2 separate regions of the Homo sapiens genome follow, and region 2 is linked to region 1. Evidence: fine-mapped expression QTL. Tissue or cell type: whole blood. Region 1 holds a variant in brackets; the other region holds the start of a gene. All regions are shown on one strand. Distances are between the middles of the regions.

Evidence for each region. PIP is the estimated chance that this variant, and not a neighbour inherited with it, causes the effect.
Region 2: it holds the start of TTI1, and the variant in region 1 is fine-mapped to the expression of TTI1 in whole blood (TOPMed, PIP above 0.99). The same link has a PIP of 0.9 or more in hippocampus, pancreas and testis.

Annotation. Positions count from the first base shown.
Region 1 is chr20:38,058,722-38,066,916 of GRCh38, forward strand. RPRD1B (regulation of nuclear pre-mRNA domain containing 1B) reads left to right here. Exons shown (of 7, transcript NM_021215.4): 5 at 673-799; 6 at 7,360-7,535. Among named protein-coding and RNA genes, the nearest start is that of RPRD1B, 29 kb to the left of the region's middle. The variant G/A (reference allele first, on the strand shown) is at 5,110.
Region 2 is chr20:38,028,617-38,036,792 of GRCh38, forward strand. TTI1 (TELO2 interacting protein 1) reads right to left here and starts at 4,840. Exons shown (of 8, transcript NM_001303457.2): 1 at 4,788-4,840. It overlaps RPRD1B (regulation of nuclear pre-mRNA domain containing 1B), which reads left to right and starts at 5,130. Exons shown (of 7, transcript NM_021215.4): 1 at 5,130-5,482. The coding sequence starts at 5,332. LOC124904898 (a long non-coding RNA gene) reads left to right here and starts at 5,490. Exons shown (of 2, transcript XR_007067579.1): 1 at 5,490-6,789. RefSeq lists enhancers at 4,571-5,166, 4,697-4,966, 5,167-5,762.

The DNA of each region.
Region 1 (8,195 bases):
CTTGAGACAGGATCTTGCTCTGTTACCCAGGCTGGCGTGCAGTAGCATGATCATAGTTCACTGCAAACTCAACCTCTGGGGCTCAAGTGATACTCCTACCTCAGCCTCCCAAGTAGCTGGGACTATAGACATATGCCACCATGCTTGGCTTATTATTTTATTTTAATTTTTTTGTAGAGACAGGGTGTCGCTATATTGTCCAGGCTGGTCTCGAACTCCTGGGCTCAAGTGATCCTCCTGCCTTGGCTTCCCAAAGTGCTAGGATTACAGGTGCGAGCCACCACACCTGGCCACAACACACAGTTGTTAACATCTGATATTTATACCTTTATTCTATACTGGAAATGATACATCATTTGAAATTAAGCAACATGAACCAAACTCCATTGTTTTGAATTGCCAAAAACATGTTCTTTTAGAATTAAAAAATAATAATAATTATTCAGAATTTCATTCATGTTCTGCCATGGACTTAGATAAACTAATTTTGTGGATTTTCTTAGAGTCCGTGACATTGACTTACATGTAAGCTCTGGGGCTAAGAACAGTTTTTTTTAAGAAATGGCAGGAATGACTGTTTTTAGAATTTGCCTCCACCTCATTTAACTCCAACTAATTTTCTTTAAACCCCATGTCTTAATGGGTAGTGTTGTTTGTGTTTTCATCTTACAGACTGAGGAACTAATCAAAGCTTTGCAGGATCTGGAAAATGCCGCATCAGGGGATGCTACTGTCCGACAGAAAATTGCTTCTCTGCCCCAGGAAGTGCAAGATGTTTCTCTATTGGAAAAAATAACAGGTGAGAAGGTAGAGTTTGGGTGAAAGGTGAGGAGAGAGGGACATAACTGTAATGCAGTAACCCTAGGCCATACTTAACGTCTGCAGGTATAGACTACTTTCCATGTTGTATTGGTTGCTCTACCATCTTGGGATTTGCAAACATAACTCACATGGTGAACAAAGAAACTTTTGAAATAGTCAAAGCTTGAATAGTGATTCTAGGAATTATTGCAGAAATGCTGGTGTGCCACAACCTGTGGCTCTCTAAATAAGGTCTGTTAAAAACATAGTACAAATTGTGTGCGTGTGGGGTGGGTGGGGGAGATTAGGTATTATTCTGTCTGTTAGACTCATAACCCTCTTACTAAAAGAAAAAAAATTATGATTCAGGGCTGTGTGATTTGTGCCCTGCTCTCTGACAAGCCCCGTAGATGATAGTGCGTTCAGTGCCAGGAATTTCAGGTGTCTGTTAGACATGTCATTTTGCCCTAGTCGTGACCTCCCTAGTTAAACAGGGAGGGGCAGTTGACACGATTCCTGCTTTCCTTATGGGAAATTGAAAGGAAGGAATGAAGCATGAACTAATATTGACAGTAGGCTTTGCACCGGTACTTCTGTTCTTTGTGATAGTCTTTGGAGGTGACTAAATGTGTGTCTCCATATTGCATAGGAGGACATTGAGGCTTTGAGAAGATAGGTGTCTTGTCCAAGGTCACACAAGTAGTGGATCTTGGGATTCTAATCTAGGCTGCAAAGCCTATGTTCCTCCCCTTACAAAAGCTCAGACCTTTCATTCCATTGTCTTCCAAAGGCCACCATTTTCCCACTCCAGTCCCTTGACTTGGCTGCTTCTCTAACTTCTTCCATATCTATCTAAAGGAAATCAAGGTCACTGATGAAATATTTCCCTCAACAAATATTTGAGGCCCACCTATATCCCCTCAAGTGAAGTGTCAAGAAGGAAAATAAAGCAGGGCAGTGGGAGCGGAAAATGATTGCAGGCGGTATTAATGGTATTTTAAAGGTGTTTGGGGAAAGCCTTTCTGATGAGATGACCTTGAGCAGAGACCCGAAAAATTAGGAAGCAAGCCATGAGGATATCCAAGGGAAGGAAGGGCCACCAGGCAGTGGAAGCAGCACAGGGAAAGACCTCAGGCAGTGGGCGTACTGGGTTGGAGAACACAGCTCGGAGGCCTTGTGAGTCACGCAAGAAGCATCTCAGCCCCTCACTCTGCTTTCCCACCCCAGGAATTCACCCCACTGGGACCTGCAGTCTCTTGATTCCTCCCCCACCTCTTCCTAGTCCTCGAGTCCTCATTTTCTTCTTTATTCAGATTGGAGTCTCTCTTTTCACTTCCTCACACACACCTTCAACCCATTTTCTTCTCTTTCTCCCTTCAGTGTAGTCTCCTGGCAAAATCCCTAAACAGGTTAAATCACATTTTAAAAATACTTACTACTAAAAGGACCACTTCATTTATTCTTACTGTCAAAATCATAATCTGCAAAAATTGCAAGCAAGTTAATGTAAAGCTAGCCATGTATGTAATTTTGTTTCTCTGTTTCACTGACCTAAAGGTCTCATGTAGCTTCCTTTTAAAATACTTTTTTAATTTTGATTTTTAATTGTGGTAAAATACATATAAAATGGTAAGCTACATAAAACACAAAGGTGTACAATTTAGTTGTGCTAAGTATTCTCATGTTGTTATACAACCAGTTTCCAGAGTTCTTTTCGTCTTGCCAAACTGAAACTCTATACCCGTTAAACAATAACTCATCATTTTTCACTTCCCATATCACCTGGCAACCACCATTCTTAAATTTAGCTTTTTGTCTGTTCCTTTCCCGAACCTGTGTAGTGGAATGTGGCTGGGAAAAACTAACATGTCTGAGTTGACTTTTCCTCCTATTTCTCTACATGGACATGCTATTTTCTAAACCCGCCTCTCTGTGTATTAGATCTGCTCCTTCTCATCTAGCCAAGGCCATTGCTCCAACAATGCTCCCTCTTTCTCCTGCATTCTCCATTTTTTACTCTTTACTGGATCATTCTCAATAGCATAAAAACATGAATTTTTCCCCCACTTGGGAAGATTTTTTTCTTGACCTCATATCTTCCTCTAGCTACTGCCTCATTTCTCTGTTCTTTTTAGCCAAACCACCTGAATGGATTGCCTGTGCTGTCTCTCTACTTCCCGTCCTCCCAGTTGCTGATGACTTCCTTGTTGCTGAACTCAATGGTGGATTCTCTGCCCCCATCTTAACTTCACCCCAGTAGTATTTGGCCCAGTAGATTATTTCTTCTTCCTGAAAATACTTTCTTCACTTGGTGTAGTAGTTGGAATAATGCCTCCTGACCCCCCACCCCGCAAACACCCATGTTTTAATCCACAGAACCTGTGTATATGTAATCTTATATGGCCAAGGGACTTGGCAGGTGTGATTAAATATCTTGAGATGAGGAGATTACCCTGGATTATTTAAGAGGGCCCAGTGTAATCACAGGGTCCTTGTAAGAGGAAGGTGGGAGAGGGGGAATGAGAAGGAGGTATTACCGTGGAAGCAGAGGTTGGAGCGATGTGCTTTGAAGATGGAGGAAGCAACTGTGATAAGGCATAAGATAATTAATTGGTGATATTCCAAGCCACTAAATTTGTGGTAATTTGCTACAGTAGCAGTGGGAACTAGGACCCTGCATTATTCTAGCTTTCCTCCTCTCTTTCTGTGTCTTTTCAGCCTCCTTGCTGGTTTCTTCACTCCTCCTTGACCTCTTCATATTAGCCCCCTTCTTTAGCTGGTTTCACTGGCAGCCATTCTCACCCAATTTCATGACTATAAATAAGAGTTTTTCTGCGAATGATTTCCTAATTTACATCTCTAGTGTTGACCCTTCCACCTTGAACTTGAGACCCATATATCCAACCTCCTACTCAGTTTTATTAGTTGGATATCTTGATAGGCATTTCAAGCTTACTCTGCCCCACACTGAACTTCTGACCTTTCCTCTAAAACTTGTTTCACTCATGGTCTTCTCCATCTCAGTAAATGGCCCTCATCATTCCTGTTGATTGGGACCAAAACCAGCATCTGATATCCTGTCACCGCCTCTACCACTGCCACCTGGTACAGGTCTCTACCATGTTCAGTTGATTTATTGCAGTAGCCTCCCAGCTGGTCTAGCTACTTCGTTTGTTCCTCTTGCTCAGCCATCATTCTAGTCTCAACATAGTAACCAGAGTGATCCTCTTAGTAGAAGGCAGATCATGTCTCCCGCTCCACATAACACCCCCACGACTCCCCCCATCACCAAATTAAAAGCCAGAGCCCCCCCCCCTTTTTTTTTTTTTTTGAGATACAGTCTCATTCTGTCACCCAGGCTGGAGTCAGTGGCATGATCTTAGCTCATTGTAACCTCAAACTCCTGGACTCAAGCAATCCTCCCATCCTGGCCTCCCAAAACACTGGGATTACAGATGTGAGCCCCCTGCCTGGCTTTAAAGCAGAGTCTTTCACTGGCCTCTGTTACCGCAAGACTTTTACTATTTTCCCCTCACTCACTGCTCAAGTCATATGGGCTCCTTGCCAGTCACTCTTTCCTCCTAGCGCCTTTGTACTTGCTGTCCCCTCTGCCTGAAACGTTCCTCCCAGATAGTTACATAGCTGGTTCTCATTTTCTTAGGCCTTTGTTTACGTATCACCTTAGCGAAGCTCACCCTGACCACCTTTTTGAAAATGTTGATCCCCCCCACCTTCCAGTGCCCCACTTTTTCTCCTCTGCCTTGTTTTTCTCTGTAGTTCTCTTCAGCTGATAAGTAAGCATAATATTTATTGTATATTGATTCTCTTCCTACCTGATAATATAAACTTGAGGGCAGAGAGTTTTTGTCCTTTTTATTCTCTGCTGTTTCTAAGAGCCTAGTTATAAGAACTCAAATTTGTTAAACTAATTGGAAGGTTTTGAGCAGAGGATTGGTGGGCATAAAGCCCGATTGGGGTGGGCTCAGGAGGAGAGCAGGTGGCTACACTTCTCTGAAAAGAGTTTAGCTGCAAGGGGGAGCAGGGAAGCAGGTCAGTAGTGGGAGAGTGGTATGTAGGTGGAATACATGGCAGCAGGTTTGTGTGCTAGTGGTTTTCTTAGGAGGGAGAGAGAGAATTTGCTGAGGTAGAGAAGACATGGGACGGCTGCAGAAGTTTAGTCTTTGAGGAAACGAGGGAATGGGATGCGCATGCCGCTTGGAGGACTGGCCGAAAGAGGCACTTGCCACTCCTCTGATGGGTGAAGGAGAGCAGGGAGCGTGAGGACAGCGTGGGTAGGTCCCCCGAAGC[G/A]AGCATCTGGCTTCTGCATTTTCACTGCGTATTTGTATAACTCACTAAACTATTATAAGTTACTTTTCTGGGTTGTAATTATTTGTGTAAATGAATTATTTCCTTTGTAAAAGTTCTTGAGGCTGCAAATTGATTTTCTTTTTAATCTTAAAAATTAGTATTTGCCATTTTTTGCCACAGGCACCTAAACATCTTAGTGAATTAACCATTTTTTAAAAACGATCAGTCAAGCAATAACAAAACTAAAACCAACCTAACCACCCCAGGAGCTTGCTCATGGACTGAGCCACTGAGCAGGAAGGAGAAGTTGGCGGTCCTTTATCCTCTGTGACTGAGGTGATCTCTTTCCTTTGTGTTCCATTCCGCTCACTTCTTCCCCTTCACCAAGGACATTCTTTGTTTCCCATCCCTGAGGAGGGTAGAGGTTCCTAATCTTTGGCATCACACCCAATCTGGAATCCTTCAGCAGTTCCTCTTGCAATATTCACATTAAGAAGGCATCGAAAAGCCAGATGGCTGTTTGCCAGAGATACTGTGTTGGGGATTCTTAAATCCTAGTTCCCCAGGAGAATGCGAGCTCTCACCTCTGACAGCCTGTATCCATAGGGAATGTCATGGAACTGTCCCACGGTACTGCCGGAGTCTCTGGTGCCCTTTGTTTCAAAGCACCAACCTACTCTTTTGATTCATTCAGGTCTTTTAAAAATGAGTTATACATATTTAAAATTCGAATCTCACCACCACCCACACATAATTAATTATATCAGTTCTTTGTAAATACAGATCCTGCTTTTTCTTCTCATTTCTTAATTATGAGCCTTTGTTCATCACTTCTTCCCAAAAATACCCTTTCTTAATGTTTTTCCACCCCCAAAGCATGAGTTACAACCCATTAATTGGATATGAAATCAGTCTGGTAGCTAATGACCAACAGTTTTTGAAAAATGGAATAAAGCCATCCTGGCTAACACAGTGAAACCTCGTCTCTACTAAAAATACAAAAAAATTAGACGGGCGTGGTGGCGGGGGCCTGTACTCCCAGCTACTCGGGAGGCTGAGGCAGGAGAATGGCATGAACCTGGGAGGCGGAGCTTGCAGTGAGCCGAGATCATGCCACTGCACTCCAGCCTGGGTCACAGAGCAAGACACCATCTCAAAAAAAAAAAAAAGAGATAAAATAGAAGATAGAGCACACATAGTAAGAATGGGTATTTTATGAAACGCTGCTTTCATTTTTCTGTGTATTTACATAAGTGTATTTCTGCTGTGGGTCATGTTCAGAAACATTTAAAAACCTCTTTCTTATCAGACTTTACATTTTGTCAAATGTAGGAAGAAGTTCATCCCCACGTCCAAGGCTTACATAGTTTAAGAGATAGAGTGCTATAGATCATTTTAGAGATCTGGCTTCGAGCCCCAGCATCTCAGCTCACTGCATATAGAAACCTGTCATGTAGTTTTTTTTCTGGCGGGGAGGGGGTCTTAGTTCCCACACCCAATAAATAAGTGCATGCTATTTTTTATTCCAGTGGAAAGTAAAAAGACTACTTAATGAAATATAGTGGTCCCTCCATATCCATGGGGGTTTGGTTCCAAGACCTTCTGAGGATACCAAAATCCAAGGTTGCTCAAGGCCCTTAAATGGTGTCGGATTTGTCTATAACCAACAAACATCTTCCCATATACTTTAAATACTCTCTAGATTACTTATCATAGCTAATGCAATGTAAATGCTATGTAAATAGTTGTTATTCTGTATTTTTAAAATTGGGTTTTTAATTGTTATTTTTATTGGTTTGTGGGGTTTTTTGGTCTGAGTATTTTCCATTCATGGTTGGTTGAATCCACAGATACAGAACCCACAGATATAGGGGCCAACCGTAATATAAATGAAAGCACTTGCAATTCTCAGAGACAAGGAACGATTTTTTCACAGGTGATCTTCAATATCTCTTTATGCTTGTTTTGTCAGGAGAGCTTTTGCAGGAACAGGCATTTAGAAAGCCTTTGCCAGATTCCCCCCATGTACAGCTTCCTCACTTCAGGTAATTGAGTAGTGTCCTGTCTTGTTGACAGAGTGAATGCCTTTGGATTTCTTGCTTAATCAACTCATTGTTTGTCCACAGGTGCTGGCTTATTCTCAGACTCTGTATATTGGGAGAGAAACCGTTAACCTCCCCCAGAAATGTTTGTAGTCATACCTGTGTGATTTGTATATTTTCTCTATTTTTTGGTCTCATTTGTACTTAGACAAAGAGGCAGCTGAACGTCTTTCAAAAACAGTAGATGAAGCATGTCTGTTACTAGCAGAATATAACGGGCGCCTGGCAGCAGAACTGGAGGACCGTCGCCAGCTGGCTCGGATGTTGGTGGAGTATACCCAGAATCAGAAAGATGTTTTGTCGGAGAAGGAGAAAAAACTAGAGGTGAGTGCATTGAAGGCAGACCCAGACTGCCCACGTTTCCCTTCCTGTAGCCCACATTAGGAGGTTTTTATTATGCTTTAATTAACAACATTTTTATCGTTTAAAAATTCATGATGTGAATTCTGAACATCCATCAGATACTGTAATTATTTGAGCCCAGTTAAAAATTGAAGTCATGTTCTTATATGTCCAGGACAGAACAAACTGGATTGTAGGAAACAAACAGTGAACTCTTAATCACAGCCTTAGGATCTTAATATTGCTTTCGTTTGAACTCATGTTTTTAAAAAAATTACGAATTGAGGTACAAAAAGGATAGCAAATCAGTGAAAACCAAAGAATATGTTTGGTAGTATTTGGGAAGTGCTGAAAAATGTTTCTTTCAAGTCATTTGGAGGTTTATTTCTTTTTTTTTTTGAGACGCAGTCTCGCTCCGTCGCCCAGGCTGGAGTGCAGCGGTGCGATCTCGGCTCACTGCAAGCTCTGCCTCCCAGGTTCACGCCATTCTCCTGCCTCAGCCTCCCAAGTAGCTGGAACTACAGGCGTCCACCACCACGCCTGGCTAATTTTTTGTATTTTTAGTAGGGACGGGGTTTCACCATGTTAGCCAGGATAGTCTTGATCTCCTGACCTCATGATCTGCCCACCTCAGCCTCCCAA
Region 2 (8,176 bases), 30 kb before region 1:
AGGATATAGAAAAACCACCACCATCAACCAACAGGACCTATGACATTTATAGAACACTCCATCCTACAATAGCAGACTACACATTCTTTTGTTGTTGTTATTTGTTTTTTTAGACAGGATCTCACTCTATTGCTCAGGCTGCAGTGCAGTGGCTCGATGATGGCTCACTGCAGCCTCAATTTCCTGAGCTCAAGCAATCCTCCCACCTCAGCGTTCTGAGTGGCTGGGACTCCAGGTGCATGCCACTATGCCCAGCTAATTTTTGTATTTTTTAAAGACCGAGTTTCGCCATGTTGCCCAGGCTGTTCTTGAACTCCTAGGCTCAAGTGATCCTCCTGCCTTGACCTCCCAAAGTGTTAAGATTACAGGCATGAGCTACAGTGCCTAGCCCACATTCTTTTCAAGTGCTCATAGAACATAAGACAGATGATTATCCTGCCATAAAACAAACCTCAACAAATTTAAAAGAACTGAAATCATACAGAGTGACATTCCCCAGCCACAATGAAATCAAGCTTGAAATCACTAACACAGAGATAACAGGAAAATCTCCAAATACTTGGAAACTAAACAACATGTTTCTAAATAATCCACGGAACAGAGAGGAAACCTTAAGGGAAATTAGAAAAAAAATAGGGAAATGAATGAAAATGAAAATATGACACACCAAAATCTGTGGATACAGCTATAGCCATGCTGAGATGTAAATTAATAGTACTAAGTCATATATTAGAAAAGGGGAAAAGTCTCAAACGAAAAAGGTAAACTCCTACCACAAGAACCTAGACAAAGTAGAGCAAAATAAAGCAAGCAGAAGAAATAATAAGGAGCAGAAACTGACAAAACTGAAAACAGAAAACACAGAAAGTCAATGAAATAAATAACTGGTTCTTTGAAAAGGTCAATAAAATTGACAAACTTCTAGCAAGATTGACAAGGGAGTGAGTGAGCAAGAGAGAGAGAGAGAGAGAGAGGAGAGAGAAGAGACGAGACACTGATACTGGAAATTTCCAATATCAGTAATGAAACGGGACAGTACTACAGACCCTGCAGACATCAAAGGGTAATATGGGAATGCTATGGTTTGAATATCCGTCCCTTCCAAAACTCATGTTGAAATTTAATTCCCAATGTATTGAGAAGTGGAGTCTTTATAAGCCCTCATAAATGGATTAATGGGTTATCATGGGAACTGGTGGCTTTATAAGAGCAAAACAGACCTCAGCTAGCACACTCAGCCCCCTGGCCCTGTGATATCCTGCACTGCCTTGGGACTCTGCAGAGTCCCCACCAGCAAGAAAGTTTTTTACCTGATGTGGCCCTGTGACCTTGGATTTCTCAGCCTCCATAACTGTAAGAAATACATCCTTTTTCTTTATAAATTACCCAGTTTCAGGTATTCTGTTATAAGCAACAGAAAACAAAGACAGGGAATACCACAAATAGCTTTACCCATATAAATTTGACAACTTTGATGAAGTGGTTAATTCCTCAAAAAACACAACCACAATAGGAAAGAGATTATTTTAACAGCTTTATAACTTTTAAATAAACTGAATTTGTCACTTAAAAACTCCAGAAAAAAAAGGAAGAAGGGAAGGAAGGGAGGGAGGGAGGAGGGAGGAAGGAGGAAGGAGGGAGGGAGGGAAGCAGGGAGTGGAGGGAATCTCCAAACCAAGATGGTTTCATTGGAGAATTCCGCCAAACATTTAATGAAGAATTAACACCAATTCTGCACATACTCTTCTAGAAAAAGAAGAAACACTTTCCAATCCATTTTATAAAGCCAGTATTATCCTGATACCAAACCAAAGGCAATACAAAAATTAAAAAAATCTATAGACCAATTTCTCTCATGAGTATAGATGCAAAAATCCTAAAGAAAATATTAGGAAATTCAGCAGTATGTAAAACACACACACACACACACACACACACACACACACCATGATAAAGTGGGGTATATTTCAGAGATGCAAGACTGGCTCAATATTTGAAAATCAATTAGAGTTGTTAATACTAACAAGCTATTAACAAGCTTAAGAAGAAAAATCACATAATCATATCATCCTCACCTTTCAGACCTCTATATGTTGAAGAATCCTAGGACTCAGTCTCTTTTTACACCTTATTCCGTTATGACTCTCACATTTTTATCTCTAACCCAGATAGCTCTTCCTTGAATTCCAGACCCATAAACCCAACTGCCCCTTAGACATCTATACTCAGATAGGCATTTCCAAATGGACATGTCCAAATACAAATGCTTGCTCTTACTCTCCAAACCCACTCTTTTCTGTAATTCAGTAAATGGAAGCGCTATTCTTATAGTTGCTTAGGCCAAAACCCTTGGAGCTATCTCAACTCTCATATGTCTTTCACACCCCATATCCAATCTATCAGCGGATCCTGTTACCTCTTCCTCTAAAATATCCCCAGAACTGTCCCTTTCTTACCACTTCCACAGATACCACCCTGGTTTGAGTTATCCTTTCACCTGGGTTACTACAACAGCTGCCAAACTGGTCCTTCCTGCTTCTACCTTTGCACTCTTACTGTCTTATTTTCTACCTAACAGCCACAATGCTCCTTCTTTGTGCAAAACTGCCCAGTGGACTTCATTTCATTCAGAGTAACATCTAAAGTCTATACTATTGCCTACAAGTCACCATGTGATGCAGTCCCTTCGTACTTTTCTGAACTAATTTCCAGCCACCCTTCTAGTTCATATCACTCCAGCTTTATTGTCCTCTCTGCTGTTGCTCCAAAATGCCAACAATGGTATAAACTTGGTTTTCCCTCTTCCTGGAACAATGGCATATGGCTTGTCTCTCAAATGACATCTTATCAATGAGGCCTTCTCTGAGAAGCATAAGTAAAAGACTACCCACCTACACATATACATTCCTTATCCTCCTTATCTCCTTGATTTTTATTGAAGTTACTTACCACTTTCTGACTTATTCTAAACTTGCATGTTTGTTTTTCTATCTTTCTCAGTAGAAAGTAAGTTCCTGAGAACGTGGATTTTGTCTGTTAGCTTAGAAGAGTGCTTTGGACATAGGTGCTGAAAAATTATTTTCCGAATGAATGAATAAACTATTGGTTCAGGAGGCAAGAATTTGGGATCAGACATAAGATAACCCTAATTTGACTCCTGGCTCTGCTATTTCCTAACTATGTCCAAGTACATAGGGTACTTAACCATGCTTTACATTTTCTCGTCTATCAAATAGTGATTGTAATAATTTCAACTCCTAAGACTGATGTAAGAATTAAATTTAAAAAGTATGTAATGTGCTTAATAGACAGTGACTTGGTATAAAAGTGCTCAGTATATGACAGTGTTATTAATATGGAAAGATGATCTAGATTTCGACACAAAAGCCCTCAGTTATGACTAGATACTCACTGTATGATTTTAGGTTACTCACCTCTTTTACACTAACTCACTTGATAAATCAGGAACTGGGGCCAAAAAGATGGCTAAGTTGCAGCCCCTTCCCTCAAGTCTTAGTAATGTGATCTTGGGTAGGTCACTTAACCTCTCTGAGCCTGTTTCCTACGCTGTCCAAAGGGGGATAATATAATACCTCACAGCTTTGTTGTGAGGATTAAATGAGTTACTGTGTGGGAATTGTGTCTAGCACATAGTAACCTCTCACTGCGTTAGCTATGATTATGATTCCAGTCTGGAGGAAGGGTAAAAGCATGTAAGCAAAGAACTGCAATACAGTGCAATAAGAGCAAAAGCAGGCATCAACTAGAAGAACGTCTCCTAAACTAGAGTCTGCCCACAACTAGGAAGTTATACCACGATCAGGAAATTTTAAAACCCTCTTATGTCTATAACTTAACTCCCTACCATCACCCCCGTGGCAGTAAGAAAAACAAAATTTCTCTGCTGCTTTGATACCTGGGATTTAAAACTTAAAAAAAAAATAGGGTCAAGGTTTAGAGTCTCAGATAGTGTTTTGTTTTGTTTCAGAGAAGAGTCTCGCTCCATCGCCCAGGCTGGAGTGCAGTGGCACGATCATAGCTCACTGTAACCTCTAACTCCTGGGCTCAAGGTATCCTCTCGCGTAGCTGGAACTGCAGGTGAGCGTCACCATGCCTGGCTAATTTTCGCTGTTACCCAGGCTGGTCTTGAACTCCAGTCCTCAAGCTATCCTCTCGCCTCGGCCTCCCAAAGGGTTGGGATTACAAGCAAGAGACGTTGCGCCAGGCCTCAAATAGTGTGTCTCAACATGAGGTCAACAGACACATTGGGAAGGCTAAGTTAGTTCCCTCCACCTTTTCCCTAAAGTTAACACCTCACTTAAGTTCGAAAAAGTCAACTGGACCCGCAGACGGCAAAAGCAGCACGTAATAATACCCTGAGTGAGAACCCACTTAAGAGCCGAGAGCCCAAATGTGTGTTTCATGACGGCGCTGTTACAGACTAAAAGGTCAAAACAGGACATTAAAGGGTGCTCCGGGGGGCTGAGTAGGAGCTCACCAGGTGAGAAAGGGGATGTCACTTTCGGACAGAGAACGAGCGCCAGGGCGTGGAGGCGTGAAAAGGGCACGTGGGTGGCTTGGAAGAACCAAAACTAAGTGTTTTGGGGGACAGCCAGAGAGCCGAACACATATGGAGGAAAGATGCGGCCTGGGGCCCGCCAGATTAGAAAGGAAATCCCCCTCCCATATCCAGATCATGATCTCTCAGACTCAATGTCCCCTCAGGATACCCCTCTACAGGGTCCCAGCTGCTGGGCTCCCTCTGGTTCCCGCCACTCTTCCCTTACCTCGTCTTCCAGCCTTTCTCTCACTCTCCCGCCTCCTCTGCCTCGCCGGAAGTGACGCGCTAAGTAGCGCGCCGTATCGCGCCAGAAAGGTTCCGAGGGAGCGGGAAAAAGGGTTCCGGCGAGATCCACTGCGCCGGTGTGCAGGCTCGAGCGGTCAAAGCTCTTTCCGGGGGCCCGGGGAACTACTCTCCTTGCCTCGCTCTGTCTCCTTCGAAGTGCTCTGCGCGAGGTTCAGAGCGGCCGCCGCCTCCAAAGGGACGGTTTTCTAGAGCTCCGACGCCTCTCGGTGCCCCTCTGCTCCGGCCCTTGCCCTTTGACCTCGCTCTCGCGGCAGGGTGAGAGGTCGGGTGGCCATCTTGTGGCGGCGGCGCGGGCGGCTGTTACTGCGGAGACCCATCCCCTCCCCCTTCTCGCACCCCTGGCAGTCTGTCAGTCGGTAAAAAGTCCCGCAGCCTGTCAGGTGAGGCCCCGGCCTCGTGCCGTCGCTCTTCCCGCCGCACTGGGCGGCCCAGGCCGCTCCCTGCCGGGCCTCACTGCCGCCACCATGTCCTCCTTCTCTGAGTCGGCGCTGGAGAAGAAGCTCTCGGAGCTGAGCAACTCTCAGCAGAGCGTGCAGACCCTGTCCCTTTGGCTCATCCACCACCGCAAGCACGCGGGACCCATCGTCTCCGTGTGGCACCGCGAGCTCCGCAAAGGTAAACACCAAATCCCCACCCCCTGGACGGTCCCCGGATTGTCCTCTCGCCCACATACAACCTAGGCCCCTCTAAGCCTCTTCATTGAGCCTTGCTTTCCAGGCCTGATCGAGCTTCTGAGATGGGAGACAAAGTTAGCCCCATTTCTCGAAGAAGGAAACTGAGGCCCGGGAAGGTTTAAGGTACTTGCCTGAGGGTCCACGGACTGGGACTCAGGTGTCCAGACTTCTAGTTCATCAAGCCATTTTCCCTTCAGTTTCCCCCTGACATTTGTGGCTGTTATTATCTCGGCTGCATTCACTGCCGTACTGGCCCTAGCATGTCGGGCCCAGTGCTGGGTATTTGGAGTAAAAGCCAGTGGGCTCCGGAGTCAGACTCTGCAGATCGAGTCCTGGCTCAGCTATTTGCCAGCTGAATAATACTGGGAGAGTTTCTTCATCTCCCTGTGTCTCCGTTTTCTCATCTGTAAGAGGGAGGCAAGGATAGCTACCCCTTACAAAGCCTTTACTTCATACCAGTCACTATACTAAGACCTTTGTGTGTATCCTCGCACTCAGTCCTTAGAACAGCCCTGTGAAGTAGGTAGTCTCTCCCATCTTAGGTTAAGGGGCCACCCAGACCTTACCTCTCCTCTCCTCTCCTCTCTCATGCAGTTGTCATTGATTTCAGGCCCTGCTCAGGTTCTGACAGACAATTCATTGAACTCATTCTGTTATGTGCCAGGCACTGGCTTGGACACTTGCAGCATGTTGCCTCTGCCAACTGCCTAGAATTTAAGCCTGACTTTGCCGCCTTACTGACCCCAGCAACTTAACCTGTCTGTGCCTTAATTTTCTTATCTACAGAATGGATAACTGAAATTTACTATGTCTTTATTACATGCGAAGTGCAGTACTGATATCTTTACATACATTGCCATTAAAAAAAATTCTCGGAGCCCTATGAAGTAGGAACTTTGCAGAAGAGGAAAAACTGAGACTCATCTCGTGGTGAGGAGTAAACGGGATAATCCAAATGAACATTTAGCATGGGGTGAGGCACAGTGTAGGCATTCAGCAGATTATGGTGAGATGAGACTTTTGATTACTCACTGTGAGGCATGGTCTTTACCTTCAAGTTGCTTACAGTCTGGTGGGGAAAGATGGACACCTACACTCCCGGATGAGTTTCATAATGGAAGACTGAAGAAATGAAGCTCAGAGCTGCTCCAGACACCCTATATGTGGTAGGCCTTTATAGCGAAGTGGCTTTACAAGTGTTCTATACTATCTGTGAGTTGGGGACACCACAGATGTCCTGCTCTACAGGTGAGGAAACTGAAGTGGCTAAGTGGTATTTTCAAGGCTTTCGAACTGAACAGGCTCAGACTACAACAGGCTGGCAAACACCAAAATCTTCATGATTTTTTTCAGGAGACCCAGTTCTAGCCCTTTAGCAGGGACTGCCCCCAAATATCGCGTACTGTACTGAGATAGGGATCCCCTCAGCCCTTCGGGCAGTTCCGGGAAGAGGTAGAGCCTGGAGTTTATGGGGCCTTCTTCATGTACCCCACTGTGCCATTCAGAAATTATTTGAAGAGTGTGCTGAAATGTGAATTGCCACTGTACAGAATTCTATTGGGTGGGACCTCAAGAGGCAGTTAAAGTCCATCTCAGGTGTCATTTTTTTTGTTTTTTTTTTTTTGAGATGGGGGTCTCGCTCTGTCACCCAGGCTGAAGTGCAGTGGTGCGATCTCAGCTCACTGCAAGCTCCACCTCCCGGGTTCATGCCATTCTCCTGCCTCAGCCTCCCGAGTAGCTGGAACTACAGGGGCCCGCCACCACACCCAGCTAATTTTTTGTATTTTTAGTAGAGATGGGGTTTCACTGTGTTAGCCAGGATGGTCTTGATCTCCTGACCTTGTGATGCCCCCGCCTCGGCCTCCCAAAGTGCTGGTATTACAGGTGTGAGCCACCACGCCTGGCCAAGTGTCACTTCTTTTGTGACACTTTCTTGATTCCTTGCCTCACCCTAGTTGAGTTACTGAAAAAAAGCAAATTAGAGAGTACATTTGTGTATGAAGCTCCGTTATCCCTAATCTTACGTGGTAAAGCCTTATGTTGCAAGTAGGCTAGCATTATTATCCTCATTTTATAGATGAGATGATAAAGGTATAGAGGGATTAAGTGCCTTGTCCACAGACATACAGCTAGGACATGAGCCCAGGGCTGCCTGATGCCAAAATGTGTTCTTTTTCATGTACTCAGTGCCTCAATGCATTTAATAAGTGAAGGTGGTCACCTGACTGCAATCAAACTGTGGTGCTTTCATTTATTAGAATTAATGAGTGCCTCCCACCCCATCATACCAGTTTAGCATTTAATTTGTTCCTACTAGCTGTTCATTTGAACTGGTTACATCTTTGTCATTAGATTATGTTTTGAGAGAGGAACTAGACCTTCTTGTTTATTTGCAACACCACAGGATATCGCGTGGTGCCTGTTATATAGTTTAAAAATAGGAATTAAATCATGGTCTCTGATAGAATTTTCGTGGTTGAGTAAAGGATCTAAACAGCGCTATCCAATACAACTTTCTATGATAGCAGCATAAAGGATATAAACAGCGCTATCTAATACAATTTTCTGTGATAATAGCAATGTTTTCTATCTGTGCCATCCAACAGGTAGCCGCTTGGTATATGTGGCTATGGAG